2 separate regions of the Homo sapiens genome follow, and region 2 is linked to region 1. Evidence: fine-mapped expression QTL. A gene starts in region 1. The other region holds a variant in brackets. All regions are shown on one strand. Distances are between the middles of the regions. Region 1 holds the start of AKR1B1 (aldo-keto reductase family 1 member B). Region 2 holds the start of AKR1B10 (aldo-keto reductase family 1 member B10).

Region 1 (15,811 bases):
AAGAGCAGTGCTCCTCAAACTTTGAAGAAGTGTGCGTATGAGTCACTGCTGGTGCGGATTCAAATGGCCTGCGTGGGGCCCGAGACTGTGATTTCTAAGACGCTCCCAGGTGATGCCAGTGCTGATGGTCCACTGGCTATACCTTGAGCAGCAAGAACAGAAAGTCACCCACACGTAATCTGCTAAGGGAGCTCAAAACACACCACAGGTTGCACCTGAGCCCCAAGGGACCTGGTCTGCACCAGGCATCCCATACCTTAAAGCCAGTCGGCCAGTGAATAAGGTAGAGGTCCAGGTAGTCCAGCTTCAGGTCGCTGAGTGTCTTCTGGCAGGCTCCTTTCACCAGGCCCTTCTCATGGTACGTGCACCACAGCTAAGCCAGCGAGAGGGCACATGTCATCATTGCCAGCCACAAGGCAGCTTCCTGGCTGGAAAGACAGAGCAGTCTCCTCTCCCCAAAACCCATTTGCTTTACCATGATGCTGTGAATGGTTGTGAGGGCATTTCCACTGCGTACTGGATCCTAACTTTCCAAAGGCAGGCAGGATGACCAGGTCACAGAGACCTCTTACAAGGACCAGAGGACACAAAATGGAATGGACAGATTGGCTAGCCTGCCCTAGGCCTAAGCAAGAACTCTCGAAACTTTCCCCCCGGGCTGGTGTTTGTGGAGCCAGCCCCATCCTCCTGCCTCATGTCCTTTGTGCATCAGTATCTCAGGTCAAAGACAGTGGCTAGCACTGGAGATTCAGTTTGCAGATGGGAACCAAGTTCCATCCTTGAAAGCGACTCCCTGGAAAGGGAGGGCCAATCCACAACCTCAGCCTCATCAGCACGGGACTCTAAGCAATGGGCCCAGATGGAATGACCATTCAACAGAGAGCCAAGGATGGGCGAGCTCTGGAGCCCTGTATGGCCGTGGGTGATACGTTTCCCCGGGAAGAATCGCCCATCAGTGAAAAGTGTAGCTGTATTGAGTGTGGACTTGGCTTTGGGCTGATGCACCAACAGATGATGGGACCGAGAGCCCCTTCCAGCCCCACCGCGGAACGATACCTTGCTGACGATGAAGAGCTCCTCACGCTTCACCACCTGCTCCCTGAGCTTCTCCTGAATGGCCACCCCCACCTCATTCTCATTCTGGTACACATGGGCACAGTCGATGTGGCGGTACCCGACGTCAATGGCCACCTTCACGGCCTCAGTCACCTGCCCTGGAGGGGACTGAAAGGAGAAAGAACGTGAGCCCCGCAGAATGCAGAGTCTGCACAGCAAGGAGGAGGGGCAGTGGCAGCCACCGATACCTGCTGACCAGCCTGCCACTTTGTTCAGCAAAGACAGACCACGTGCACTTCCTCAGCAGCATTCTGGACTATCAGCCTCAGACGCGGGGGATGGAAGTGAAAGGCCACACAGCATTGCCCTGTAGGAGAATCTGACAGCCACTTAAGTGTAGGTGAGATCACTTTTAAAAGATATGCTGAAGCCATCTCATTTTCTTGCTTCTTCACATCCACTGATTTGCAAACCACTGTATTAAAAACATTTCCCCACACTCTGAATGCTGAGATAGTAAGGGAAACCATTTCCTTCAAATATCTCAAAATATTTCAAAAATAGATGTCCTATGGACCCCAATTCCCATGTGGCTCCCCAGTTCAGCCAGTGAATGCCTGCCCCTTACGCTCTCTTTTCATGCATGGCTTCTGATACCGGCAGTCGCTTGTTTTCAAGCGGTTCTGGGAGATTATCATGAAGTTAAGCACATCACTGATGTTTATTCAAAGGCCCATGTGTCAATTCTCACTGTATGAGGATCTGCTTCAAGGGGTGGAGACACGGGAGATGGCCCCTCAGAGGTATCAGCAGAGAGAAATAAGTTAAAGGGAAACGAGGGGGAATGTGGATCATGGAAGATCACCAAATGGTTAGTGGCTGACCTGGCAAAATGACTGAATGGGTGTCCATGGCCAAGCCACCTGACCATCTGAGTAACCAGAACAGCTGTGGGGAGCCTGGCTACTGAAGAGGAGGAGGAAGTGCCTACATGGCATCGCGCTTCACTGGCACCCAGGTAGGCTGCATGGACACGTATCCCCCAACTTTCACTATCCTGCTATGATCACAGAGCTGAGCAATAAACATGTGCAGCGGGCTGTTGAATGAACAGAGCACATTCCTTTGGAGAGCTGGGGTAGAAACAAATGAAAAGAAAAACCCCCCAGGGCCATAGCAGCTGCAGACATCTGTGTTTTGACATCAGCTATTTTCAACAGGCTTTGGGGAAGAAAGGGGCCCAGTTGAACAAGCCCGTTACCAGAGCCTGTTAGCATGGAGCTCACTCTCCACCTCAGAGGGAGCAGCGAGGCAGGGTGGGGATGCTCATCGAAGGTGTGGGTTAAGAGGGGACGACCCTCAGAGGACCTGGCGACCTCTTATTTGACTGGAGGACCTCAGAAGCTGCTCTTGCAGCCTTCCCCACTCTGCACGGTTGAAGGAACAGAGAATCTCAATTTCCAGAAAGAATGCCTTACCACAGGCCCTGAGTGGTGTCCGGGCACAACCACCACTGATGACAGCAGGGAGAGCAGAGGACATCCCTACCCCAGAAAGAACAACTGGGGCCCAGGCAGGAAACTGCCCAGGACACACTGAACTTTCTCCAGGCTTGATGGCGCCTTGATTGATTTTTCTCTGAGGAGCTGCTGAGGGCACACTCCGCAGGCTCAGCCTAGCCACGCACTGCCTGCCATGCAACTGGTGCGGGGACAGGAACATGACTCAATCCAGGCCATAAGACTCAATCTTTGCACTTGAATTGGAACCCCTGAGTCCAGCCCCGGTTCTGCTGGGGTCACTGAGCTGGGAGAATGTCAGCCTGGAGCTGCTGCAGGAAAGTGGAGGGAGGCCAAATCCTGGTGACAACATTTACAACCCTGAATCTCAAACACCTAATGTCAGCGGCTGTTGTTTGGGGAAGTCAATCAATCCCCACCCCAAACACACTTTTTTTTTTCCTGCTTAAGATTAAAGTGGTTTTTCAGTTCTTTGGAACCAAAAGAGCACAGACTAGGATAATCAAGCTTGCGTTGGCACGACATGAAAAAAAAGTTGTGAGAGGTTTTTCTAGAAAAGTAAAAGACAGCAATGACTGCAAGAGGTCACGAAGAAGCTGCTGATCATTCCTTGGATATGTGCCATTCGCTGGAGACATGTGTGCTGGGAGGCTGATCAAAGGTGCTGGAGGGAAAAAGTCACCTCTGCAATGAAAATGTACGAGGATCCACAACCACATTCTATGTTAATGATCTCAATGTACAGCCCTTCCCTGAGAGAAACTAATTTGCCTTATGAAAAATGAAGCAGCCAACTTAAGCTATGGTGAGAAACCATTCACTAAACTTGGGAATGCCAACACAGGATGACAACATCTCCCCATTCCATGTCAACAAAGAGAAAATGCAAACAGAAGGAGGGGTCCAGATTGACTTCTAAAAAGAAGGTAAACTATGAAAACATGCTGGGTGGCATCCAGGCACAGCCATTACTGATGAGAGCTGTAGAAATGCAGTATATGAAACACTCCAATTACAGCTCAATCATACAAATCCTACATGTTTCTAACCCGATCCTGCCACTAATCTGTGTGCCCTTGATGGGCAAAACCATGCATGCCCATTCCTCCCAGAACTTCTGGCTCTGCAAAGCTCTACGTTGGGCAGTGACTTGAAATGCTCTGGGCTGATGGCACCAAGTGATGGCAGTGAGAAGCCTCTGCCCTTGAGTCCTCCACCACCTCCTTCAAGACAGCGGTCCTAGTTCCTCCTTTGATAACACCGGCTGGCTAATACCAACTCTGAGACACTGATAACTAAAATCAGTGTCTCCCTCCTACACAGATACAACACTCCTTTTAAAACCTAGTCTTCTTCCCTTTTGCTTACAGGTCTTGCTAGTTACTTCAAGATACCCCTCCCTCTCTTCCCTCTGCAAGTCAAAAAGCAAGCCACAGTGCTAAACAGGAAGACGGTCACAGGACAGTGTTTATGGTAAAACCAAAGTATCTCAGAGATTGGATATTTTGCAATATTAACCACGGGGATCTCTGGGAACAGGGAACTCTTCATTTTTGAAATGTTCTCTAGTTAGCAGGTGTTACTACTGAAATCAAAGGATAAGGGGAGGGGGCAAAGGAAACTTCACTTTGGGTAAAGAAACGGTCCTGAGTAGGAAGCATGAGAATGCTGTGCTGATAATCCTGGAGCAAGGAACAGGAAACGATCACTCAGAATCAGGTTTGGCAGCAGAAATTAACTTCCTCCTGTTCTGTTTTAATCAATTTGTCCCAAATTCTAAGACACTGCTGTTTCCAACTAGTTGAGATGTGCATGGACCAGGACTGACCCTGTAGGGGCAGGGCTTATTTAAATGTCTTTGGTCTTGAAGAGGAAGAGATGGGGGCTTTAGAGACACCAGGGAAGTGAACAGTAAATCTGGCTCCTGTGTTACCTCCATGCCCACAGCGCCTCAACCCTCACCCCATCCAAGGATCTTGGGCCATCACAAGCTTACCCCACTTGGGGAAGGTGGAGCAAGTCTTTCCTGGCACATTTTCTTTTACCTCATGCATTCTTAAAGTGGGTGCTATTGTCCCCAAAGAGACAAAAATTAGTTCTCTGGGGCAAAAAAACCCCCCTCAGCTTATAGAACAGCTTGTGACCCTCTAGAAGGCTACTGGCCATAAGCAGAAGTACAATATTATCTCTGATATTACAATTTTATTTTGGGGCAAATTAGGGGAAAAAAAAGTCTCACAAGGCTCCTAGGTGGGAGGGAGGTAGTGATCATGGCAAAAGATGGAGAAACATAGTTGTACCTTCAGCCCTAGGAGTATTCTGTGAGCATACATAGGAGACTTACAATGACTTTTACCTCCAACAATTTTTCAACTAGATTAAAAACACTATCAGTAACAAGACACTGGTGGGCACCAGACATCATCTCTGTTTTAAAAGCTTCCTGGCTTTACAATGCTGTGATGGGTTTTTGTTGTTGTTGTTGTTTCTGAGACCGAGTTTTTTTTTGCTCTTGTCGCCTAGGCTGGAGTGCAGTGGCACAATCTCAGATCATGGCAACCTCTACCTTCTGGATTCAAGTGATTCTCCTGCCTCAGCCTCCCAAGCAGCTGGGATTACAGGCACCCACCACCATGCCGGGCTAATTTTTGTATTTTTAGTAGAGAGGGGGTTTCACCATGTTGGCCAGCTGGTCTCGAACTCCTGACCTCAGGTGATCCACCCGCCTTGGCCTTCCAAAGTGCTGGGATTACAGGTGTAATTGTTTACTATCCAATGTAGAAGGCAAGACTGCCAGAAAGAAACCCTGTCCAAGCCACATGGGTCTGGGGCAGAGATGGTCTCCCCATCTGCCTGAAACCCTCACCTGAGAAGAGAATGGAGTTTGAGGACCTTCAAGAGTAGAGACTACCAGAGCCCTGCTGAGGGTCTGAAAGGTACAACACAGCCGCTACGGCATGGGAAGACCCAGGAGAATAAGGAACTGCACCTGCCTGCAGGGCCTCCTCCAGCTGTCACAAAGACAGGCAAAGGATCACATCTTCTGTCGAGCATCTGTGAAAGAATACATACACACATACAAGGGAAAGGTTTTTTTGTTTGGTTGTTTTTTTAGATGGAGTCTTGCTCCATCGCCCAGGCTGGAGTGCAGTGGCGGGACCTCGGCTCACTGCAACCTCCACATCTGGGGTTCAAGCGATTTTCCTGCCTCAGCCTCCCAAGTAGCTGGGACTACAGGTGCGTGCCACGATGCCGGGCTAATTTTTTGTATTTTTAGTAGAGACGGGGTTTCACCATGTTAGCCAGGACGGTCTCTATCTTCTGACCTCATGATCTGCCCGCCTCTGCCTCCCAAAGTGCTGGGGTTACAGGTGTGAGCCACCGCGCCCGGCCCCAGGGAAAGGTTTTAAGTCATTAAAAAAAAAAAGGAAGTTGATTCCAAGTCCATCCTTATACCATTACTTTGACCCACCATTCCCCGCTGCCCCCACCGTACAATTCTACACCAACCTGATCTCCTCATCCACAGGAATACAAGTGGGCGTTTTCACCATACAGCTATCTCTAAAGTCGTTTTACTTCTTCATATGAATTCAACACATAACTTTTGGATACCTACTCCTATATTTGCCAGGCACTGTGAGAAGTGCTAGAAATAGTAATGAATGAAGCAGACATTATCCAATTTCTCAATGAACTCTGTCTACTGGAATGCATAACCTAAATGTACAGATGTTATGATGTGATGTTATCTTAAACAAATACATAGCTTTTTGGGGCATTGAGTGCTCAAGTGAATAATCTGAAACCCTCTTTCATAAACTTTTACTCCTCAGCCTGGACAACATAGGGAAACCTGTCTCTACAAAAAATTAAAAACAAACTACCCGAGTGTGGTGGCACACACCTGTGGTCCCAGCTACTTGGGAGGCTGAGGTATGAGGACCACTTGAGCCCAAGAGGTTAAGGCTACAGTGAATCATGATCATGCCACTGCACTCCAGCCTGGGTGACACTGAGCCCCTGTCTCAAAAAAAAAAAAATAAACTTTTACTCCTTATTTACCCTAGAGTAGTGATTTTCAAATGATGGGTCACAAAACTAGCTTCTGGAGGTATGACAATAATTTTTGGAAAAATGGAATAGAAAAAAATATTGAAATGCAGCCTACATAGGTTAAGTACTGTTAAGTAATTTTTATTCCAGTTACATGTATATATCTGTGCGTTGCATCATGCTTAGAAAGTATTTGCTATTGCCAAGAAAGCATCCTTCTGCATCCATTCCAAGAGCATAACATGCAACAGATGGAAATTAGCTTGGTGTCATGGTTGTAATTCAATTACAACCTTAGAGACACCACTGGAGTTTTTGGAGGAAACAAATCACGTACCCTGATCATTCTGGCCAAGAAACACTCTCCCTGATGCAAATGACCTTTTTCTTACCTTATATTTACTAATTTTCAACAGCAGGTTTTAGGGTACATGTAAACTCTTCTGTCCTATTTCAAACATCTCACAGTTCACTCAGTTCTTTCTGTTGTTTTCTTCCCTTGTCTGTGTGTAAATATCCAACGCCCAGGCCCATATTCAAATTTTAAGAGAAAAACCTGGGACGTGGGCCTGCCAGATGGTTCACACCTGTAGCTTTGGGAGGCGAGGTGGGAGGAGCGCTTTGAGCCCAGGAATTGGAGATCACCCTAAGCAACAAGCGGAGACTGTCTCTGCGGGGAAGAAAAAAGATTAGCCAGGTGTGGTGGTGAGCGCCTGTAGTCCCAGCTACCCGCAGTGCTGAGGCAGGAGGATCACTTGAGCCCAGGAGTTCCAGGCTGCAATGAACCATGATTGTGCCACTGCACCCCAGCTTGGGCAACGAGACCCTGTCACAAACAAACAAGCAAACAACAAAAACAGAAACTGAGAAACCCAGGTTATGGCTGTGGAATATAATATGCAATACTTAGAAGGTTAAAAATTCTAGGTTTTGCCTCAGCTCCCATACCACCACCTTTGTTGCTCAATTTTCAGATAATCAGGCTCAGGCTATTATTTTTGGTTTTTCATATCATATTATCATTTTTCATATCCTATGATGTTTCATGTCCTATTGTCATTCTCATCCGGCTAGGCACTTCTCGGGGACGCTGTGTGGTGTTGAGGTTTTACAGGGAAAATGCTAACCTTGGCGCCTCCTGAATTATCAACTAGCTACGGGGTGCCCAGATTTTTCTCCCGAGTTCCAGACCCAGGGCACCCCGAGGCGGCGCCTGGCCGAGGAGCTCCGCACTGCGCCTTGTTAACAGCTGGGTCCGGGCAAACTCGCGCCACCTAATTCTCTGCCCTCTACCGGCTTGAGATGCTTATTCCTCAGGGAGGGCAAGAATCGAAACGATTGAGACCAACTATTTACAAGTGAGGCAACCGGGCTACAGGTGCCTCGAGGGAAAGGAGGCTGGGTCTGCGCTCCCACACCTTGCCGACGGCTCCACGTCCCTGTCTGCGCCCGAGGTCCACCGGTCTGTGAAGCCCACTTTCCCCGCCTCCCTCTCGCGTTGTGCCGCTTGGGGCGCCCGCTAGGACCCAAAATGCGGACTGGTGGGCCGCCCATCAAGGGTTGCCCGCGGTAGGGCGGGGGCTCCCGTGAGCTGCTCCCAAACCCCACTCGCAGGATGCTGCCCTGACGCCCAGGGCCAACCCGGGGAGCCAAGGCCCCCGGTCTCTGCAAGGCCGACCCCAGCCCGCTGGGGACCCTGCAAGCCCGCGCGTGGCTCCCAGCACGCCGGGCGTCCGCGGGGCGAGCTGCTCAGGGTCACTCGGGGTCCCTCGCCAATACAGGCCGCGCGGAGAGTGTGAGGCGAGCCCCGGGCCCGCGCCCCCACGAGCACCTACCTTCCAGGTACCCAACCCCAGGATGGGCATCTTGGCGCCGTTGTTGAGCAGGAGACGGCTTGCCATGGCTGCTGCGCTCCCCAGACCCCCGCCCAGTACGGTGCGGCCTTGGCCGCGGCGCGTACCTTTAAATAGCCCGTGAGGTCGGCAGAAAGGGCGCCTGCGGTTGGCGCGCCGCTGCGCGAAGGAGCCTTCTGATTGGTTGCGCTGGGGGTGCCGCGGCGGCCTTCCCCAAGGGTCGGCGGGGATGCTTCTTCCGCCTGGTCCTAGTGGCAGCGGATTCTTTCCGCCCCCAACGCTCGCCCGCGCCCCGCGTGGCAGAAAGGAGTTCCTCAGCTGCTGTATCTGGTGGGAAAGCGAATGCTTTAGCGAAAATAACAGGCATCCCATAAATACATAGACTAGAAATAAGTTTTGGTTTCATTAAGAGCCCAGAAGAATGCCTTTGTTGTCCAACCCCAGTTTGATGCTCTTTGGGAATCTGACGAATACCTTGTCCTTAATCTATGTGAATCATACTGACTACACATATAGTTTACCGCACTTTGTTCTTAGACAAAGGTGCATGCCAGAAAAATGGCTTGCAATCCTTTTGCAAAGCACCTTCACAAAATATGGGTTTGCCCAGACTTTTTGTAGCCTTCTAGATCTCTCTTTGCACCCCACTCTAGGTGTTAGCTGTGTCTGTGCATACTAGGTGTGGTTCAGCAAGCCTTCCACCAAAAGCCAGCATCCTTTGATGTTCTTGAGGTTAGAAAGCCTTGATGGGCTTGATCCAGAACTCTCAGAAGAATTTGGAAAGTAAGGCTGTCCATTCAGAATCAGTAAGACAAATTTCATCAGTCTTTGGAAAGTGAGACTCTATCAAAGCAGTAAGTTCCAGTACAGTAACTTATCAAAACTCTCTAGAGGAAGAAAAGTGAACAGACAGAAAACCACAGAAGAAAAAGTTGACTCTAATATTGTAGCTTCCAGTATTTCAAATTAGAAGGTACAAAATAGTAAATTGATCACCCTAATTGGCAGGTAGAAACACACATTTTTCCAAGATAGCCTAAGAAAAGTCACTTGAAGATCCTTGAAGACAATTTTGGTTTCTTTCCAACAACCTCTCTTCATGATACTCTACCTCACCCCAACTGCTCTTTCTGCTCCATCACCCTCCGATCTTTCCCCTAATTATGCAAGATTGGGAACTCCATCTGCCTGGTAGTGACTCAAGCACCAGGTCTCTCTAAACTCCATGCCGGTGATTTTCCATTTGGTGCTTTCTTTAAAAGTGCTCCCTCCTGGAAAAATTTATACAGAACAGACTAGCCCAGATATTTTTCCATGTAACTTTTGTAAAAATTGTTGCTATTGGGCAAATTCATTTGTCCCCAAGTAATAGAATTTGAACTTGAGCCTAAAGCTGGGAACTTGCTTTGTGTAAAACAGCAAGTTCCTTCCTCCATGAGAGTCCTCTTGACTTGGAGGTTGCTCTGCCAATTGAACCTCCTGGGTCCAAATCCAAAGAGCTAATCTCTTGTGAAAATGATACACCTTGAGTGGCCAGGTTGGTACACACAGAAGGGTCGTCTGTTAGGGACATGGACTCAATATCAGAGGCTTTGTTGTTGGTTTGATAATAATTGAGTATACAGCTTGATTGCATGAAGTTATAACTGTGTCTAAAGCTGGAGTGATACCTGTAGTCTCAGCTTCTCAGGAGGCTGAGGTGGGATGACTGCTTGAGCCCAGGAGTTAGAGACCAGCCTGGACAACATAGCAAGACCCTGTCTGTAAAATAAATAAATAAACCCAGAATATTTTGGCTGGGCCATGCAGACATGAAAAGTTGTATCAGTGGAATTTCTATAGCAACAATAGCACTCTAGTTGGGACATGCTATTGTGATAGCCCCCTAACATCCCCCATTGCCTCTGTAATCTTTGTAAAATGTACACATACCAAAATTTTTGATCTCAAGATTTTTGATCTCCCATCTTTTGATAAGTATACATATCAAAATTTTGTTTGAAAAAGGGAAAAAAACCTTCAATGGAATCCTCCTGAGAAACACTCTAGTAATTGGAATCTTAACATGCTCTGAACCAGTAATCTCCCATCATGGGAATTTTTCCTAAGGAAATAATTTAAAAGGAAAACACACACACACACACACACACACACACACACACACACACACACACACACTAGGTATAGGGCTGGGCTGGGACCAAGGTAAGACAAATGAGGTACACAGGTACAAATTTTCATGCCAGAAGGTAGGAGCTTTTTTACATTTATGTCCTTGGCACTTGCCTTCCCTTAGTCCCAGGCCTGCACACAGATATACACATATGCGTATGTATTTTTAAAATGCTGTATACTTAAAGTAAAACTGTAAATATCCAACAATAGCAAGAGATAAGGTGTAGCCATCAAAAGTAAAGATGACAAAGACACAGAGAAAAATGTATATGAGGTAATGTTAAGGTGAAAGTAGAAAACAAAGTCATATAGCTATGGAATGATGCTAAGAAGGAAAATACAACCTATAACATTTAGGAAATTTAGGAAGAAGACAGAAGGAAATGGGGAATACTCTTTGTCAGATTATTTCCTTAATGAACACATTTTGAATTAAAAGACAACTTCTTATGAACTGTCCAATTCCCATAGGATAAAACCTAAACTCTTGAGCCTGGCATTCAAGGCCCTGCGAGATCTGGTACAAGTTTGAATATACAAAAAAACCACCCAATTGCATATTTAAAAAGGTAAATCATATGGTACGTAAATTATACATCAATAAAGCTTCTATAAACAAACAAAGGTTATATGCTACATGTCCAACACAAGCTGGTGGAGCTGAGGGTGACAGTAGGCTCTGTTCACATTGTCACTCAGGGACTCAAGCTATGGAGGTCCCACCACATTGTTTCCCTGCTGTCCCAACCCAAGGTTTCAGGGTTTGGCTTAGGAAGGCAAAAGAGAACCTAAGAGTCTCAAATGAGCAATCAATTGCTCAGTCCTGGAAGTGGCACACATCACTTCTACCTATAATCCTTTAACCAGATCTGGTGGTAGAGCCCAGCCAGGCCTATCTTCAATGGGATGGGGAAGTGTCATCCTCCTGTATGCCAGAAAACAGAAGTGAATGGGTATGGTGAGCAACAGAAGTCTCTTCCACAACGACAAACCACTACTGAGTCTTTATTATGGTTTGGACACTGTATTATGGTTCAGCACTTGGCATATGTTATATGAAGGTGCTGCTGCTGCTGCTTATATATCTATTGAGTTATGTACATTAAATCATTTAATCTTCATAACCACCCCTTTCATGGATACTATGATCAATCCATGTTACACGTGAAGAAACTGAGATGCAGAGAAGTGAGAAAAATTGCTAAGATCTCACATTAAGTAAATGTTAGGGTCAATATTTAAACCTAGGAATTTGACTATAGCACTCAAACTCTTAACCACTACCAGTAGCTTTCAAATTTTTAAACTGTGACTCACACTAAGAATTTTGGAATGAGTGACGTCAGGAAGAAGGCTGACTAGAAATGCCTAGTTCTTGTCCCCACCATAAGAAAGGACCAAGGGAATAAATAAACCGCTAATATTTAACTGCAATTATGAAAAAAGAGCATTAAAGTGCAATGGGGGAGTAAAGGGGTACTTGTAGTGATTGGAAGCCCAAGAGAGTACCATGGAGGCACATGGCCTCTGTAGCCCCATCTTGCCTGCCACAATTGCATCAGCCCAGAGACAGGAGGGAAGTCCCCTTTTAGGGAGAAGGTAAAAGAACCTCACCAGTCTCCATTGCCACTGTAAATGACTCCAGTCCTCATTACAAAATAATCCCACAGTCCTTGCAAGCCCCGTGCCCAGTTTGAAGAGCTTCTGGGAATCCATATAGCTGTATCACTCCGGATTAGGAGCACAGGGTGTGTACACACCCTTCCCTTAGTGAGCCAAGCTGCTGCAGCATGGCGCCATCTTGAGATTAGAGCCATTTCTGGACTGTGCCTTGCTCTGGGGGCCGTAGCCATTGCACTTCTCCAGCACTGGGGCTCCATCTTCATTCCACCAAGCCCACATGTGGGCCAACTGCACAAAGACTGGGCCCAGGATTGGCTATGACTCTGGTCCTGCACCACAGTGAAACCAACCCCTGTCATCTGCAATACAGCTGGAGGAACAGTCTGACAGTCTCACCCAGGGTGAACCTTCCTTTAAGCCAGCCAAATGGCTGTGTGTCCTCCCTCAAGCAGGAGAGGTCCCTAGCCCATCAAACAGCTGACATGCCTGCCCCCAGGCCAGCAGAGTGGCCATATGCAGATGTACAGGGCCTGAAAAACAGGCCTGTAGCACCTACTCCCTCCATGAACACACCCTTGGATTGCCTCGCATTCACAACCAGGGCTTGGAGAAACTTGAGAAGCTGACTGAGTAGCTGTGTGAAGCCCATAGGTGGCTGAATCCCACAACTCCAGCTGCATGGATTCTGGGCCCAGAATTGCCTGTGACTCTGGTCCTGCACAGCAGTGAAACCAACCTACACTGTCTGGTTTTACAGTTGGAGGAAGACTCTGGAAGTCTTGTCTGAGGAGAGCCTACCCTTAAGCCAGCTAAACTGCTGCACACCCTCTCCCAAGTGAGAGAGGTCCTTGATCCACCTAACAGCTGACATGCCACTGGGCCCACAGAGCAGCTGTGTGCCCATGCCCAGGGCCTAAGACACAGTAGCAGCATGGGACCACACCCCTACCATGGACATGCTGCTGACCTGCCCAAAGGACCTGCATGTGCAGTCAACGCTTGAGAAACAGCCCTGTTGGCCACCCCCAGCAGACATGCACCCAGGCCAGCCAAGAAGGTGTGTGGCTGCATCCCATACCTGAGAAATGGCCTTGTGGATTGCCCTGGCAAACACACTTCCAGGCAGCCAAGCAGCCATGCACTCATATCTTGGGCCTGGGAGATAGCCCCATAGGCAATCCTTAGAAGGCAAGCAGGCGGGCCATCAAAGCAGCCACACACCTGACCCCCAGGCTTGGGAAACAGCCCCATGGCACTAAATCACAGAGAGCCAGACCCAAAGTTGGCCAACCCAATGTGGCCACACATGCACTCAGACATGAGAAAGGCCTGGCAAGACCACCATGGCAAAGCTGCACTGCCACTGCCACAAAATCTCTCAGCCTAGGACACCGAGATACTCATAAACATTGCAAGGATAGATTATAGTTGAAGAAACTATGCAGATGCTACACTACTGCATGCACCTAGAAACAAAGCCAACGCACTGCCCTGAAGCTACTCCCCAAGACCGATCTATGAGAATAAGTCTTTCCATATAAAACCTACTCCATGAAATTGGAAGGAGTGACTGTTCCACCAGATGTGTAGAAATCAGTGTAGGGACACATCAAACAAGAAGAAGCAAGGAAACATAATACTTCCAAAGGAACACAGTAATTCTCCAGTAACAAATTGCAATAATAAGGAAATACTCAAAATGCCAGGAAAAGAATTCAAAATAATAATCTTAAAGAAACTCAATGAAATAAAAAAGAATAAAGATAGAAAACTCAACAAAATTAGGAAAACAATTCATGATTTGAATAAGAAATTCAACAATGATAAGAACCAAACAGAAATCCTAGAGCTAAAGAATTCAATGAATAAAATAAAAATACAACTGAGAGCTTCAATGACAGATGAGATCAAGCAGAAGAAAGAATTTCTGAACTTAAAAGATAGGTCATTTGAAATAAAACAAGCAAACCAACAAAAAAGATAAAAAGAAAAAAGGAGGCATACAGGAGTTATGAAGCACCATTAAGCAAACAAATATTTGCATTATGGTATTACAGAAGGAGAGTATAAAGGAAATGATATAGAAAACTTATTTAATGAAATAAGTCCAGGCACAGTGGCTCGTGCCTGTAATCCCAGCACTTTGGGAGGCCAAGGCAGGTAGATTTCTTGAGGTCAGGAGTTTGAGACCAGCCTGGCCAACATAGTGAAACCCTGTCTCTACTAAAAATACAAAAATTAACCGGGCATGATGGTGGGCACCCGTAATCCCAGCTACTTGGGAGGCTGAGGCAGGAGAATCACTTGAACCTGGGAAGTAGAGGTTGCAATGAGCTGAGATCATGCTACTGCACTTGCCTGGGCAACAGAGTGAAACTCCATCTCAAAAAAAAAAAGCATATTTAATAAAATAATACCTGAAAACTTCCCAAATGTTGGGAGAGAGACTGATATCCTGATTCAGAAAGCTCAAAGAATCACAAATAGAGTCAACCCAAACAGGTTGATATGCCTCTTCTGAGGCATATTATAGTCAAATTGTCAAAAGGCAAAGGCAAAGAAATAATTCTAAAAACAGCAAGAGAAAAGCATCAAATGACTTATAACACAATCCCCACTAGACTAACAGTGGATTTCTCAGCAGAAATTTACAGGCCAGGAGAAAAAGAGGTGATATATTCAAAATACTGAAAGAAAAAACGACCACTCAAAAATATTATACCCAGCAAATCCGTATTTTGGAAATGAAGAAGAAATAAAATCTTTCACAGGCAAGCAAAAATTAACGGAATTCATCACCACTAGACCAGCCTTGCAAAAATGCTCAAGGGAGTCATACATCTAGAGGTGAAAAGACCCTAATCACCATCGTGAAAACACGTAAAACTATAAAACTCATTGGTAGGGCCAATACACAAAGGAAAAAGGGAAGTCAAACCTATCTCTACATAAAACCACGCAACCACAAAAATAAATAATAAGGGAGGAAATAAAGAACAAAGGACATACAAAACAACCAGAAAATGATTAATAATGACAGGAGTAAGTCCTCAACTATCAATAATAACCTTGAATGTAAATGGATTAAATTTCTCATTTAAGAGATATAGACTAGCTGAGTTAATTAAAAGAAAGAGGACACAACTATATGCTTCCTACAAGAAACTCTTTTAACCTGCAAAGATGCACATAGAAAGTGATTGAAAAAGATACTCTACTCAAAAGGAAACAAAAAAATGAGCAGGAGTAGATATATCAGACAAAACAGAATTCAAATAAAAAGCTAAAAAGAAAAATAGATATTATGTAATAATAAAGGAATCAATTTAGCAAAAGAATATAACAATTGAAATGTATGTGCACCTAACACTGAAACACCTAGATACATAAAGCAAACATTATTAGATTGAAAGGTAGAGATATACTCCAATAGAGTGATAGCTGAGGATTTCCAAACTCCACTCTTGGTATTGGACAGATTCATCTAGACAGAAAAACAATTAAGCAACATCAAATTTAAATCGCACT
Region 2 (15,811 bases), 71 kb after region 1:
AACTCTTACAGCACAGGTGGATATAAATTAATTTTTTAAAAAATCTCCATTTATGTTACATAGAGATACAGTTCCAGTGGAATTTTATAATAGATGTTTAATGGTTTATCAAAAATTTAAGAATTTATGCTTAAAAATTATTGTTGCATAAATACTAATTTTAATGATAACTTGATTCAGAAGAAAATTTTTCTAACCCCCAGAAACTTATGATCACAGGATATAAAGCATAAACATTTTAATGACCGTGAGTCATTGTAAGATACATTTTCTGAGGATTTCATGTGTATGAATATTATTATATTCTCCCATTTAAATGGCAGTTTGGCTGGATAGAAAATTCTGAGTTTAAAGTTATTTTTCTTCAATACTTAAGAAAAAATTTCTCCATTGCCTTTTTGTATTCAGTATTCTGACAGGGGTAAAAAGCAGACTGCTCTGAAAATAACCTGATTTGTATATTTGAATTTGAAACTATGCATATTTGGCTTTGGAACATAATTCTAAAACAAAACACTTGAAAAAGAACCCCTGGAATTTAAAACCAAAATAGAATTGTAAAAAAATACATACCTTAGGCCCCTGAAATCACTAAACTAAAGGGAAATGTCAAGCTGGGAACTGCTAAGACAAACCTGCCTCCCATTCTATTCAAAGTCACCCCTCTGGGCCCGGTGCGGTGGCTCACATCTGTAATCCCAGCACTTTGGGAGGCCAAGGCGGATGGATTACCTGAGGTCAGGAGTTCGAGACCAGCCTGACCAACAGGGTGAAACCCCGTCTCTACTAAATACAAAAAATTAGCCAGGCTTGGTGGCACATGCCTGTAATCCCAGCTACTTGGGATGCTGAGGCAGGAGAATTGCTTGAACCCAGGAGGCGGAGGTTGCAGGAAGCTGAGATTGCACCATTGCACTCCAGCTTGAGCAACAAGAGCGAAACTTCATCTCAAACAAACAAACAAAGTCACCCCTCTGCTCACTGAGATAAATGCATATGTGATTGCCTCTTTTGGAGAGGCTAATCAGAAACTCAAAAGAATGCAGCCATTTGTCTCTTTATCTATGATCTGGAAGCCCCCTCCCTGCTTCGAGTTGTCCAGCTTTTCTGGATGGAACCAATGTTCATCTTACATATGTTAATTGATGTCTCATGACTCCCTAAAATGTATAAAACCAGGCTGTGCTCTGACTATCTTGGGCACACGTCATCATGACCTCCTAAGGCTGTGTCGCAGGCGTGTGTCCTCAACCTTGGCAAAATAAACTTTCTAAATTAACTGAGACCTGTCTCAAATTTTCGGGGTTCACAGAATAAATAAGCCTAATGGCTCTTAAACTGTTTTCAATACTTTAAAATTGTTTTTAGTAATTACAGTGTGTAGGCTGTGTTGTATTTTTAGTACTATTGCATGTACATTGTGAAATCAAGCAAATTAGCAATTACGTTTGTATCTTTGGGAAGTGAGATATTCAGTGTGAGAGAATGAAGAAACATAAGACAGGTGAGATTAAGCCTTGAAGTTCTTAACTTGAATCAGAAATGTCCATTTGAAGTCGTGTTTTTTTTTGTTTTGTTTTGGTTTTTGTTTTTTTTTTGAGATGGAGTTTCACTCTTATTGCCCAGGCACGAGTGCAATGGTGCAATCTCCGCTCACTGCAACCTCCGCCTCCCAGGTTCAAGTGATTCTCCTGCCTCAGCCTCCTGAGTAGCTGGGATTACAGGCATGCACCACCTTGCCCAGCTAATTGTTTCTTGTATTACTAAAAATACATGGTAGGTTTTTTAAAAGGTATTTCCTACCTCTTTCTACTGAAAAGGCCTGGAAGCAAGATTCAATTCAATTGCAAAGAATGATTCTAGTTCCCTAATTGTGGTTTCTAAATATCAATTTCCACTAAAAGGAAATCTCCTTGGATAAATGTAGGTCTGGAACAGGAAAGCAATGAAGTTACCAAAGGCTATAAAGATTACATGAAAAGAATGCAAAAGCCAATTTGAAGTGCTCTCAGTGGCAAAGAGGATAATTTGGGCATCAATAAGAATAGCAATAGATTATAACATTGAATATATTTAAATTCATGAATTCAAAGAACACTAAATGACAACTAATCTGTCACCTTGGAGGGTGCTTGGAAACCTCCTTTTAAAAACTAAAATAAAAGAATGAATCAATCATTATTCAGTGTTCCTATTCAAACTATACCTCAGGGTAGCCAAATAATTGATTAGGAGAAATTTCTCCTTAAAGAAGTATGCCAGCTAATACATGAAGAAAGAATGGTATAATTAGTATTTCACTGTTTTGTAATGTTATGAAATAATGGATTTAAGTAATGATCATCAATGACTACTGTAAATAATACAAATAAATAAATACAAATAAAGAGGCAGCCAGTCATTCCACCGGAATAGAAGAATACAATGTATAGGAAGTAGCCAAAAAACAAAACAAAACAAGAATTGGATCTGGATTTTATCAAGCCTCTAGGTCTTATTAGTGTTGCCAAGATATTTGGGGGATAGAGTGACATGATAAATACATTTCTGGGAATGCAATAATCAGCAGAATCCAGAGGGCGGGAAACTATAGAGAGAAAGTGATTTTTTGTTTGTTTGTTTTGTTTTGTTTTTTGGCTTTTTTTTTCCTTTCTTTTCTTTTTTTTTTTTTTTTGAGACAGTGTCTTACTATGTCATCCAGACTCCCGGGCTCAAGCAACCATCTGGCCTCAGCCTCCTGAGTGGCTGAGACTACGGGCATGTGTCACCATGCCCAGCTAATTGTTTCTTGTATTTTTCATAGAGACAGGGTCTCGCTATGTTGCTTCTGGCCTCAAGTAGTCCTCCTGCCTCAGCCTCCCAAAGAGCTGGGATTACAGGTGGTGTGAGCCACCACACCCAGCTAACAAATACAGCACAAGGAGAGAAGGTGGGGACGTGTAGTTTTGCATATTTTCAAAATATTTCATAATAAAAAGATTTTTGAAAAATTAAAAAACAAAACTTTGGTGCTCTCAAATAAAATAAAAAATGTTAACATGCACAGGGGATTCAGATTTTGTGATCCTGAAGTTGTACGATCGGGGTTTTCTTTTAAAGAATACAAAATTAAGAATTCAATGTTAGGTACAAAGCCTAAGATGGTGCTCATGCAAGTGAAGGCAACTGAAGGTCAAGTTTTGTTACCTTCATGGTAAATCCAACTCCATGATCACAGCTTTGCAGCTCCTGACCCTCTGGTACCTGCATATCAGTCTAGCTTTAACTCTGCTGGGCACCCTGTAAGTCTACTCTCTGAGCGTCCCCACACTGGCTTCCTCCCGTTCTTCCAATGTATCTTAGTCGCTTCCACCCCTTGGCTCACACTGTTCTGCCCAGAAACTTCTCTGCACTCCCACAATTCTTGGAATTGTTCTTTTTCCTCCCTGTTTCAGATATATTAGTTGCTGCTTCCTCTGTTTCTTAGAGAAATGGATGAGAATGAAAAGCGGCACTACTCGTTCATTTTCCTTCTAAAAATAATTTTGTCTCAATTTTGTATGTACTTAATTTTAACAAAGTAAAACTTCTTATGCACATATATTCATCAGATTTAAAAAATGAGAGTTTCTTAAGGGTACAAAACCAGGAATAGATTGGTAAATTCATGAAGCTAGAAAGTAGCTAATCAAAACTCTTATGAAAACTTCTGGGGTTGATTAAGAATAGCCATAATTCTGTGTAACAAATCCCCTCAAGAGGTGAAATCTATTTCCCTACTCCTTGGCCCCGTCCTGGCCTTGAGACTTGCTTTGATCAATAGAAGGTGACAGAAGTGACACTGCACACATTCCAAGGGTAGGCCTCCTACAATGCTGCTACCTATGAACAAGCCCAAGTTAGCCTCATGGAAAATGAAAAACACATAAAAAGGGTCCCTGCCTTCCCTGACATCCCAGTCCACCCCAGTGAAGCCCACAGAGGTGAGAAAACCCAGCTGACAGACACCACGTGGTTCTGAGACCGGCTTATCAGCTGATTCCTGCCCAAATTGCCAACCCACAAAATCACAAGCAAATAAATGGTTGCTGTAATAACCAGTTTGTTTGTTACACGAAAACAGCTAATCAATATACCTTCTTAATCTCAATTATCTAAAAAAGATATCCCTTCTCACTGATTCATAGCTAAGTGGTTCTGGAAGGAATGTTATTATGAACAATACACATTTCTTTATTCTGTGCATCACATGAAAATGGTCAGAATCAAAATGGAGTCACTAATGTTAAAAAACAAACAGAAGACTCTGACAAATACAGCTGGGAAGACCATGAAAAGAGGGTTCTAATGGTTGTACACCTGAAAACCAAAAGTACCATGAAAGACGGTGAAAACCACAACCTTGAGCAAAGGCCATTGCAACTGAACACAAAACATACTCTGCAAGGACCTCTGAACAACTGCGTGTCCAACCTCAGACTAACACCACTTTCATGATTGATCTTTGGAGCCAAGGCTAATTATTTCAAAGCAATTAGATAATCCTCATTTTTTCCTTGAAAAGTTTTGTCTTCCTTTATTTCCCCAAATATACACATAGTTTACTGTGGCATGCATATTCCCATTGCAGTGCTCTATTCCCAGAGAAATATTTTTCTTGTAGGGACCCTCTCTCTGTTATTTAGGTTGACAGTCACTAAGGATTTACTATTTCAACAATACTAGCACTGCATGTCATCCAGTATACACTGGGAAAATAAAGTGCCGCAAGTGCATATCCAGGAGACTTTGTGGCCACCAGATTATGAGGAATGCATGTATTTAATTATTTATTTTTGGGACAGAGTCTGTCTCTGTCGCCCAGGCTATAGTGCAGTGGCACCATCTTGGCTCACTGCATTCTCCACCTCCCAGGTTCAAGGGATTCTCAGGCCTCCCAAGCAGCGGGGACTATAGGTACGTGCCATCATGCCTCGCTAATTTTTGGATTTTTAGCAGAGACAGGGTTTCACCATGTTGGCCAGGCTGGTCTCAAACCCCTAAGCTCAAGTGATCTACCTGCCTCGGCCTCCCAAAGTGCTGGGATTACAGGTGTGAGACACCATGCCCGGCCCATGCATTATTATTAATGTTGAAGTAGATAATTTAACAAACATCAATGAAGTATAAGATTTTTCACTCATAGTTGCAAAATATCATGCCAATTGCCTTCTATGAGCTGTCATAAGCCACAGCCTAGAGATTCAATTCCATTTCAAGATTCAACCAAAGCCAACTCATCAACAAGAACATGTAAAAGACAGAAAAACCCACTACCGGCAGGCTGAAACAGATGCTGTGACGTGGCCCTGGCCTGTCATGGCGTGTCACAGCATGGCACAGGCCTATATCATGTTCCCTAGATTGCTGACTACCAACTAGTTACAGCTGACTCCAATCAGGTCGGGATTTGACCATCTCTGCACTGAACCTGCAATTGCAACTTTTAAAATTGAAACGCTGCTTCTCACCTCTCCTCCCTAGACTCTATTTCACAGAGGAAACCATCACAGGGAAAGCAAGCCCTTGTTTTTTCTTCCTTCTTTGCTTTGCTTTCTTTCTCTCCTTCCTTCTTTCTTTCCTTCCTCCCTCCCTCCCTCCCTCCCTCCTTCCTTCCTTCCTTCCTTCCTTCCTTCTTTCCTTTCTTCCTTCCTGCCTTCCCTTCTTTCTTTCTTTTTTTTGAGACAGGGTCTCACTGTCTGTCGCCCAGGCTGGAGTGCAGTGGCATGATCTAGGCTCATTGCAACCTCCGCCTCCCAGGTTCAAGTGATTCTCCTTTCTCAGCCTCCCAAGTAGCTGGGATTGCAGATACGTGCCCCCACGCCCGGCTAATTTTTGTATTTTTAGTAGAGGCAGGGTTTCACTATGTTGGCCAGACTTCTTTCCCTCCCTCCTCCAACTCTTCTTTTCTTCCTTGCTGTCTCCCTCCCTACCTTCCAACTTTTGGCTGTGTTGAATTTGTTGACTCATCCTGAACAAGCAGAAACTCCAATGATACTGTCACCTAAGAGAGAACTTTGCACAAGGTTGCCATGTTTAATAATTCATTCACAGAATCCTCAATCTCACAAAAGCCTGGAATGGATTTCCTGTTTGGTTATGGCAGGGAAGCTACTGTGGCCAGGCTCCAACTCCTCCCACTGTAGATAGCAGCAGCCTTCTTAAGCAGCCTGTGGCCGGGCACAGTAGCTCACACCTGTAATCCCAGCACTTTGGAAGGCCGAGGTGGGCGGATCACCTGAGCTCAGGAGTTTGAGACCAGCCTGTCTCTACTAACAATATAAAAATTAGCTGGGAGTCACGGTGGGCGCCTGTAATCCCAGCTACTCGGGAGGCTGAGGCAGGAGAATTGCTTGAACCCAGGAGACAGAGGTTGTAGTGAGCTGAGATCGCACCACTGCACTCTAGCCTTGGCAACAGTGCAAGACTGTCTCAAAAACAGCAACAGAGAGCAGGACGTGAGACTTCTACCTGCTCACTCAGAATCATTTCTGCACCAACCATGGCCACGTTTGTGGAGCTCAGTACCAAAGCCAAGATGCCCATTGTGGGCCTGGGCACTTGGAAGGTAAATATGCAAATCTTTGCACACCCTTCTTCTCTGGAGGGGCGTTTGGGTGTTTTCTCTTTCTGCATTCAGCCAGGAAAGCCTGGAGGTCGGGCAGGGGTTGGAGAGGTAAGATTCAGCCCTGGAGCCAGGACTTAGGTTGCTTTCTTTTCTCAGAGCTGATTCAGGCTGCAAAGCTCCAAGGCTGGCTTTCCCAGCAGTGATGAGAGCTTCTCTAGCAAGTATCAAATTTCAAGCAGCTGTTGGACTTAAAACTGTTTTCCAGGGCAGTTTCTCTCTCTGGTTCTAGGACACTTAATTGGGCTCAACGTTTCCCCCAAGTCTTGGCTGTGGGTTTGTTGTGGGCTGGGTGGTTGAGGAGAGGATGCAGAGCCCGAAGTCCTTGGCACCCCTTTGCAGATCACGGTGTGAGACTTGGGCTAGCAGCATCCCTATGACCTGGAAACTTGCTAGAAATGCAAACTGGCCAGGTGTGGTGGCTTATCCCTGTAATCCCAGCACTTTGGGAAATCCAGACGGGAGGGTTGCTTGAGCCCAGGAGTTGGAGACCAGCCTGGGCAACATGGCAAGAATCCATTTCTACAAAAAATAAATAAATTTTCTGGGCATGGTGGCACGCACCTGTAGTCCCAGCCACTTGGGAGGCTGAGGTGGAGATTGAGTGTTGAGCCTGAGGGGTCAAGGCTGCAATGAGCAGTGATTGTGCCACTGCACTCCAGTCTGGGCAACAGAGTGAGATCCAAGAAAGCAAGAAAGAGAGAAAGAGAGAGAGAGAAAGAAAGAGAGACAGAGAGAAACAAAATGCAGAGTCTCAGGCTCCAACCCAGGCTACCTAATGGGCATCTGCACTTTAACAAGATCCCTACGTGGTTCCTGTACACATTGAAATCTGCAACATGCTGGGGCTGCAGAGAGCCTGGGCTGGGAGTCGTGAGCACCACCCGGCTGTGTTAACGACAGCTGGCAAAATGTGGTAAGGCACATCCAGGACTCAGTGAGGCAGGTTCCCGAGCCTCTGTTAGGCTAAGTTTCAAGTTGTTCCATCACCACCTCCCTCTGCCTTCTTTGCCATTTCCATCCATGATAGCACTACCCTAACTAGTGATGAGAAGCAGTCTTTGGAGTTCCTCTTCTCTCCTGTCCCTCATGGCTAATGTCCCTGCTGAGACTTCTGCCTCTGGCTCTCTTTCCTTCTGTGCACCCTGATTTTTCTTCTCTTCTGTCCCAAGCTAGAGGTTAGGACCCTCTGCTGCAGCACTGGGTCATCCTCAGGATACATTCTTGGTGTATCTGGAGGAACAGATCACTTCCAGCTTGATTCATGCAGAGCGTCTCTTGCTTGAATAGCAAGATTTGCCCAAAATCAGACCTTCAATCCTGTATAAACAGAATAAATAATCACTTCCAGATCTCCAGGGAATCTACTCACCCTGGGTGAGTTTACCAGACAGTTTCATAATTTTGGAATTGAATGAAAGAATTATGAAGGGAGCTGTCTTCAACACGTGGGGATGATAGACTAAAGGATTATGAACTTAGCAGTGGAGGTGAAGAAGGGTGTAGCGTAGCGGTTGGGGGCACAGGGCTGCTTCTGGGTGCCTGGCAGCAGCTCGTTTCTTGTCCAGGTGGTAGGGTAGCTGTGCATCTCTGTTTTGTGTACTGTTCAATGTTTGTTATCTCACAATTGAAGAGGTTTAAAAGACCATTTTGTGAGAGATCAAGTTTTAAGTGCTTTTTTGCCCCCATCATTGGCTTGGCTAGGTTAGAACAAAATGTGATAATTCTATTTCCCTTCTTTTCTTTTTTTCTTTCTTTTCTTTTCTTTCCTTCCCTTCTTTCTCTCCCTCTCTGTCATTCCCCTCCCTCTCTCTTTCTTTTTACAGGAGTGGAAAACAAACTCTATTCCTATAAGGTTTTCTATTTCTCTTTTTTTTCTGAAACGATCATTGTATAATGATGGCCTCTACTGAACCTTACTGTGTGTCAGGTAATGTGCAAAAAGCTTAATATTCATTGCAGCATCTCATCACCACAAAGGCCTCATGAGGCTGGTGCTATTTTTTTTTCCATTTTGCATACAAGGTTTACAGAGATTGAATCACCTGCTTAGACCCACACACCCAGTAAGTGATCGAATCCAGATTGATGGTGTAATGACCATTATCCAGATCCTTATCACCATTTGGGGAAATTGTCTGAAAATCCCTTGGGGTTATTTAGAGTCAAGCTTTCATCTGGGTCTTCAGAAAGTTGTAGTGGAGCGGTCTGCACCCCCACACACCTGAAGACATTTCAGGACTAACCTGGATGAAAAGGGAACTGACTTTTAGCTAGGATAGGACATAAGGACATAATCATAAAATAATTCACTTTCCTTCTTTTCTTTTGAAAAGTTTTGTAAAGTGTGTATCCTCCCAGAGATCCCCTGGCAAAGGAGACCCCAGTGAGGCCTTGGTTTGGAGAAACTGGGCCTTGTGGGGCAGCCTGTTGAAGGTGGCCTGGGGATAAGAGAATATGATGGTTGCTGAGAGTGGTGTAATTCCAGCTACTCGGGAGGTGGGAGGGTTGCTTGAACCTGGGAGTGTGAGGCCAGCCTGGGCAACACGGCAGGGCCCCATCTCTTAAAAAAAACACATATGTGATGAGCTTTTCTTTTGCCTTTCAGTCTCCTCTTGGCAAAGTGAAAGAAGCAGTGAAGGTGGCCATTGATGCAGGATATCGGCACATTGACTGTGCCTATGTCTATCAGAATGAACATGAAGTGGGGGAAGCCATCCAAGAGAAGATCCAAGAGAAGGCTGTGAAGCGGGAGGACCTGTTCATCGTCAGCAAGGTGCAATGGTGCATTTGGTGGGAGGCCTTCACTTCAAGGCAGGCAGAAGTATCTGGGTCGGGTTGGCAGCAAGAACTCTGTCAGCCTTTTCTACATGTACCCCTTTTCATCTCTGCCTTGATAACATCCGTGAATACAACACTATCCATACTCCAAGCCATTATTGATATTTGAACATGTCGTGGCTGCCCCACCTGCCTGTAGGTTGGTTTTCCCATAGTGGGCTTGGTTCCATGGAACCCTGCACTGCCCTGGGCCTCCCTGTTCCCCATCAGAGGGATCTACCATCTGCCCAGAGGCAATCAGAGGCCAAGGGTGCAGGCGGGTCTTGATCTGAAGCCTCCCTTTCAGCACTGTGATCTCAGTGACTGTGCCCCTGAGACTCTCAGCCAGGGGGAATTTTAGAAAATGGTAGGGGCATTTTTCTATTGTCACATATGAATTTCTTTATTCATTCTAGTAAAAGGTGAGGGATACAATGTTATAAAAAAGAAGAAGATGTTGGGTGTGAGAGGGCTGAGAATCACTGGATCTATATTATACATAACTTGCTGAAAAAAAATAACACTAGTTCTAGGTACTTGGAAAATGCATACATCTGGTAGGACAAATAGACCTCACTGTGTAGCAGCCAAGTCTGGATAAAGCCTTTGTAAAATTATCACTTGGGGCCTTATAGGCTTGATAAGGGACCTATCAGATAGGTCAGATAAAGGACCATCTGCTCCCAAAGGCCTAAGAATGCTTGACATTTAAAAGCTACACACAATTCCTGCTCTCAGAGAGCCTACAGCTGAGGAAGAGACTGAGACAGGTAAACAAATTTCAAATCTGTGGCCACATTTACTTCAATGATCTGAGACAC[G/A]TATAGAGTACTAGGACAGTTGAAAAAGTCAATTGCTTTTAACACTTAAGACATGTCATTGAGGTGCTGAGCCCTGGTGATGTTCCACACTGTGTCGTGGATCTTAATCAGCTTTGTTACAAATGGCTTGTGGTGGGTTAGATGAGGATGCAAATCAAAAAGCAGGGACAATGAGTACAATGTGGCCCTTCCTTTTCCCAGTATTAATAGCTCATTGCTACACTCTTTGCAGTTGTGGCCCACTTTCTTTGAGAGACCCCTTGTGAGGAAAGCCTTTGAGAAGACCCTCAAGGACCTGAAGCTGAGCTATCTGGACGTCTATCTTATTCACTGGCCACAGGGATTCAAGGTTTAAGACACTCTCTTTCTCAGCCTCTAGTTTCTGAGCAGGTGCCAGAAAATAGTAGCTGCACCAGGGCTGTGGGGTGGTGTGGACTGGGGCAGGAGGCCTTGCATTTCATAATTGGGAATGGCAGGTGGTCAGGAAGAGACCTTGGAGAAGAAACACACTGGCCTGGAAGGGAGGTTGAGGCCATGTGTGCTGCTGAGGTGGCCACATGCCTGGGTTTTCTTGCAGTTATGTCTGAGAGAAGACATGATTTCTGGCAGCCCAGACAAGTTGCAACTGCCATATCACCTTTGTCTTGATTCCACGCCCCAGGGTTGCCCTCCCAGGAAATCTCTTGGGTTACTCTTGCATAACTATATTCCAGGGCATAATTATCTTATTAAGCAAAGTACACCTGGGAGTGGCATCTTGGAGAAAAGCCCAAGTATGGTGATGCTGGAAGGAAGCCAGTAGTGATCCAGGCACCCATTGCCTGGGGCTCTGCTCTTACCTGCTCCTGAGGGGTGGGAGAGACAAATTTCCAGCTCTCTCCCCTCCTGACCAACTGGAGTGATGATGGCCTGCCACCCCTAATTCCACGCCTCTTCTAGAGGCTGCAAGGATAGAAGTTGGCCAATATCTTCTCCAGAAAACCACAGCTTGGATATCTAATCCTTATCCAGTAATATTGAAATGAAAGTTTGCCCTTGGTTGTATATGGGATCTAGGTGTATGAGGTTAATGTCCATGGTGATAATGAACTTCTGGAATGTACTAGCAGCAAATCTTAAAGTCAAGCCAGTCGTTTCTAAAATATTAGTATGCTACAGTAGATACAGAGATTTTAATTAAACTCACATTCCTAAAGTATGTACTCCAGAACTTGAAAAAGTGGTATGCAGATGTGGTATTTAGCAAGAGTCAGGATCCTGAAACCTTGTTGAACAGAACCAAGTGTCCTGATGCAGATTCCAGTAAACTTTTCATTCTGTGTTCACAGTCTGGGGATGACCTTTTCCCCAAAGATGATAAAGGTAATGCCATCGGTGGAAAAGCAACGTTCTTGGATGCCTGGGAGGTAGGTTCCCAGCTTCCTCTAAGTGTGCTGGGAGAGAAATCTTCAGTTATCCATGAGATTCGCATGGATATGAATGAGGCCATGTGCCTGATGCTTTCTAATTTCATCATTGTGATTTTCTAGCTCTTCTAATATCTTCCTCATCACCTTTGGCTTTTGGGTACATCTGATACTATTTATATTTCAAGGCTAATAGTCTTCAAATAAGACTGGAAATACAATGTACCCCACTTTGGGGAATACACATGCTGTTCTCAAACCAGGGCGAGGCATTTGGAACAGGAGGTTTGGGCCTGGGTGTGCTCATAGCAGCTGAGTAACCTAGGGTCAGTTTTGTAACTCATGTAGGGCTCAGTTTTCTCTTCTTAAAAAGAAGTTGTATAATACATACTACCAATATATATCTTCCAGTGTGTGATAAAGATTAAGATGGTTTACATGCCAGGAACATTAGTCATAAAGCCCATTTAACCCTAGGAGACAGGGTTAACATCCCCATTTATAAATAATGACATTTGAAACCTAGATTGTTTGATGACTTGCCCAGGTCTTGTCACAATGTGTGTGGCAGAGCTGGGATTAGACCCAGACTCATCTGAATCACAAGTCCAACCACCAAAGCCATCAGCATGGTGCTTGGCAGGCAGTGAAGACACATCCAGAAATCAGGGAGCCTGAGTGCTCTGCTTCTCAGATCTAACCATGACCTGTTTCACGTCATTCACATTCAAAATGAATGAAGGGATGAACATTTTCTCTGGTCATTTTTTATTATTTATACCCTTTTGCAAATGCTAGTAGAGAATGAAGTGGAGGAATAAGTTATAAATGAACAGTGGCTTATGACTCCAAGAGTTAATCGTGTTATTTTGGTAGCTGTCTGTGTAGGTGTGCATGTAGTTGCGAGTTTGTATTGTGTTTTACAAGCAAAAATATATTATGTTTCAACTTTCTGAAATGCTTATAATTGACATGATTCAATGAAATGTAGCTTTTTCTGTGTATTGTTTGTTCAAAAGCATTAATCCACAAGCACAGCTTTTTGTTGTTTTTATTGTCTTAGACACTCTCACTCTGTCACCCAGGCTGGAGTGCAGTGGCACAATCTTGGCTCACTGCAACGTCCCTCTACCAAGTAAAAGCCATTCTCCTGCCTCAGCCTCCTGAGTCGCTGGGACTAGAGGTGCATGCCACCACGCCTGGCTAATTTTTGTATTTTTAGTAGAGATGGGGTTTCACCATGTTGGCCAGTCTGGTCTCGAAGTCCTGACCTCAAGGGATCCACCTGTCTTGGCCTCCCAAAGTGCTCAGATTACAGGTGTGAGCCACCACACCTGGCTATTTGCATTACATATGATAAGATTTTTTTATCTTAACTCTTATGATGCCATGAAGTATGGCAAGTATGTCAATGTAGCCTGCTTCTCGCAGTGCTGTTTTTTGAATGAATACAAGAACGACTGCTAAATAAAACATTTGAAAGGCATGAAAAGATAGCAGTGATCAAGATCAGAGGCTCTGATTTGAAATGAGCAGGCTTGAATATGTAAGCGTTGGATGTTTATGTAGACCCACAACCAGTTCAGTAGAAACCTCACTGACCACATTGAAGCAGAGAGGAGGAAAAATGTATAAAGAAGTCAAGTTCTAATACAGGAAAACTAACCTGACCTATGTGCACAAAAACTTTTAAATTATCTAATTGCCCCATCTGAAATTTTGGGAAACCTAATGATTTCACAGCTTCTAAATTCTACTGCCCAATTTGGATAACATCATATATCCTAGTGGTTCTCAACGTGGCTATGCATTAGAATCACCTGAGGAGTTTAAAAATCCCAACGTCTAGGCTACAACTCAGAGAAAATCTGTAAGAAACTCTGGGGGGTGAAATCCAGGCACTGGTAATTTTTTTTTTTAATTTAGAGAGAGTCTCTCTCTGTTGCCCAGGCTGGAGTACAATGGCATCATCATAGTTTAGTGCAGCCTCGGACTCCTGGGCTGAAGCAATCCTCCCAAGTAGCTGGAATCAAAGGCACATGCCGCCACATCCAGCTAATTAAAAAAATTTCTTTTTGTAGAGACAGGGTCTTGCTATGTTGCCCAGGATGGTCTCCAACACCTGGCCTCAAGCAATCCTCCTGTCTCAGCCTCTGGTAATATATATCAGAAACATATATATTATTAGTAGGTATTATAAGACTTTTTTTAAGAAGAGAAAGCTAAGGCCTACAAGAGTTAAAAAACTTACCCTAGGTTACTCAAACCTAGGCCCAAAACCCCTGTTCCAATCCTCCTGTCACCTCCCAAAGTGCTGAGATTACAGTCATGAGCCACTGCATCCAGCCAGTATTTTTTAAAGCTCCCTGGTGATTCCAAATTGCAGCCAAAGTTGAGAAGGGCTGGATAAAGTGTTCCCTGAACATGTCGTGCTTATCCCTGCCTCTGAGCTTTGCTCCTGCCTTCCTGTGTCATATGCTCATGTTTTTTCCCTCTTTTCTGTCTTTTTTTTTTTTTTTTTTTTTTTCTTTTGAGGCCCAGCTTATACTCTACCTGAAGGACTCCCCTGACAACTGCGGGCTGTATGTATCTCTTCTTTCTCTGCCCTTTCTGACTCTGTCTATGCCGCTGTGATGTTATCTGAGGCAGCCTCAGTGTCATGATTGATGGCTCCATAGAAGGGAACTCTAGCACTTTAATTGGACTATAAGAATCCCAGAAAAAGGGAGCACATTGTATACATTTACATCCTGACAACTTCTGGGCAGGATCTGGAACATGTAATAGATGGCTACTAAATACATATTGCACTGGAGGCTGCTGCTAACATGTATGGTATCTTTGGGCAAGTTTGGAAAATGCCCAATATAGGCTAAAAATTATACAAAGATTCCCTTCCTTGCGTGTCCATGCAGTTTCTGTACCAGGAAGCATGGCTGGATATGCAAACAGTGGGTCAGGCTTCAGTCCCACACAACTCCATGGCCGGGTGCCCCTATCAGGGTGTAATCTGAATGCATGACCTTCCTGCAAACCAAAGCATGCTTAGTGTGGGAGAGAGGGACTCAGGACCCACAAGTGAGGCTTCTCCGTATGCTGCAGCCTCTTCCTGACTAACACAGCTTGCCCAGGTTTGGGTGTGCAATGCACACACACAACAGCAGCTCCCTGCTATCATTTGGATTCATTAAAAATTAAATCATCTCATAAGCTTACAAATGTTGATTTTTATTTACTTTTTATTTTTTTGCATTACAAAACTTTCATATTTCCCCTGTGTACAGGAAGTTTAATTTTTTATGTGTTTCTTCACGTGTAAGGTGAGAGTGGCAAGAACATAAAATCTTTACCTGTTACTCCTAGTTTTTCTTGCGCTGGGGAGGGGCAGTAGGGCTGGAACCAGTCACTGATGGGCACCCAGGCCCTGGACTAAAATTTCCTGTGAATGCTTCGGCTAACCCTGTTACGGTGGATCCTTTAGCAATTTCTGCCCCAGGGAGGACTAAGGCAAGCCAGGGTCCCTGTAGTCCCTCTAGAGCTGCCCATAAGGTATTCCTTTCTATGATAGGCCATGGAGGAGCTGGTGGATGAGGGGCTGGTGAAAGCCCTTGGGGTCTCCAATTTCAGCCACTTCCAGATCGAGAAGCTCTTGAACAAACCTGGACTGAAATATAAACCAGTGACTAACCAGGTAAATTCTATTCAGTTTAAGGGTAAGGGTCCTGCCCTATTACTTCTTAAACATTGCGGGAGGAATGTTCAATGCTATGCCCTGAGTCTCATCTCAGGGGTCAGTGATCAGGACACTTTGGGGAGGTGTGAGGCTGATCTCACGGGTGATTTAGCAAGTATCTCAGTGGGCAGGTGTTTGGCCTTTGCTTGGTGGACTTTTTTTGTGTGTAGAACTCCCTAGGAACAATGCAAAACAGAGCCGGCTTTCCCCGTGATGAGGATTGTTTGCTGTTGCAGGTTGAGTGTCACCCATACCTCACACAGGAGAAACTGATCCAGTACTGCCACTCCAAGGGCATCACCGTTACGGCCTACAGCCCCCTGGGCTCTCCGGATAGACCTTGGTGAGGCTTCCAAGTGGTGGGTCTTTCTCTTGATAATCTTAAAAA

The links. PIP is the estimated chance that this variant, and not a neighbour inherited with it, causes the effect.
Region 2: its variant is fine-mapped to the expression of AKR1B1 in whole blood (TOPMed, PIP above 0.99).

The regions. Positions count from the first base shown.
Region 1 is chr7:134,450,530-134,466,340 of GRCh38, forward strand. AKR1B1 (aldo-keto reductase family 1 member B) reads right to left here and starts at 8,571. Exons shown (of 10, transcript NM_001628.4): 1 at 8,468-8,571; 2 at 1,057-1,224; 3 at 257-373. The coding sequence starts at 8,533. RefSeq lists a silencer at 8,181-8,370 and an enhancer at 12,636-13,136.
Region 2 is chr7:134,521,392-134,537,202 of GRCh38, forward strand. It overlaps AKR1B10 (aldo-keto reductase family 1 member B10), which reads left to right and starts at 6,176. Exons shown (of 10, transcript NM_020299.5): 1 at 6,176-6,586; 2 at 9,252-9,419; 3 at 10,517-10,633; 4 at 11,613-11,690; 5 at 15,259-15,381; 6 at 15,660-15,766. The coding sequence starts at 6,521. The variant G/A (reference allele first, on the strand shown) is at 10,285.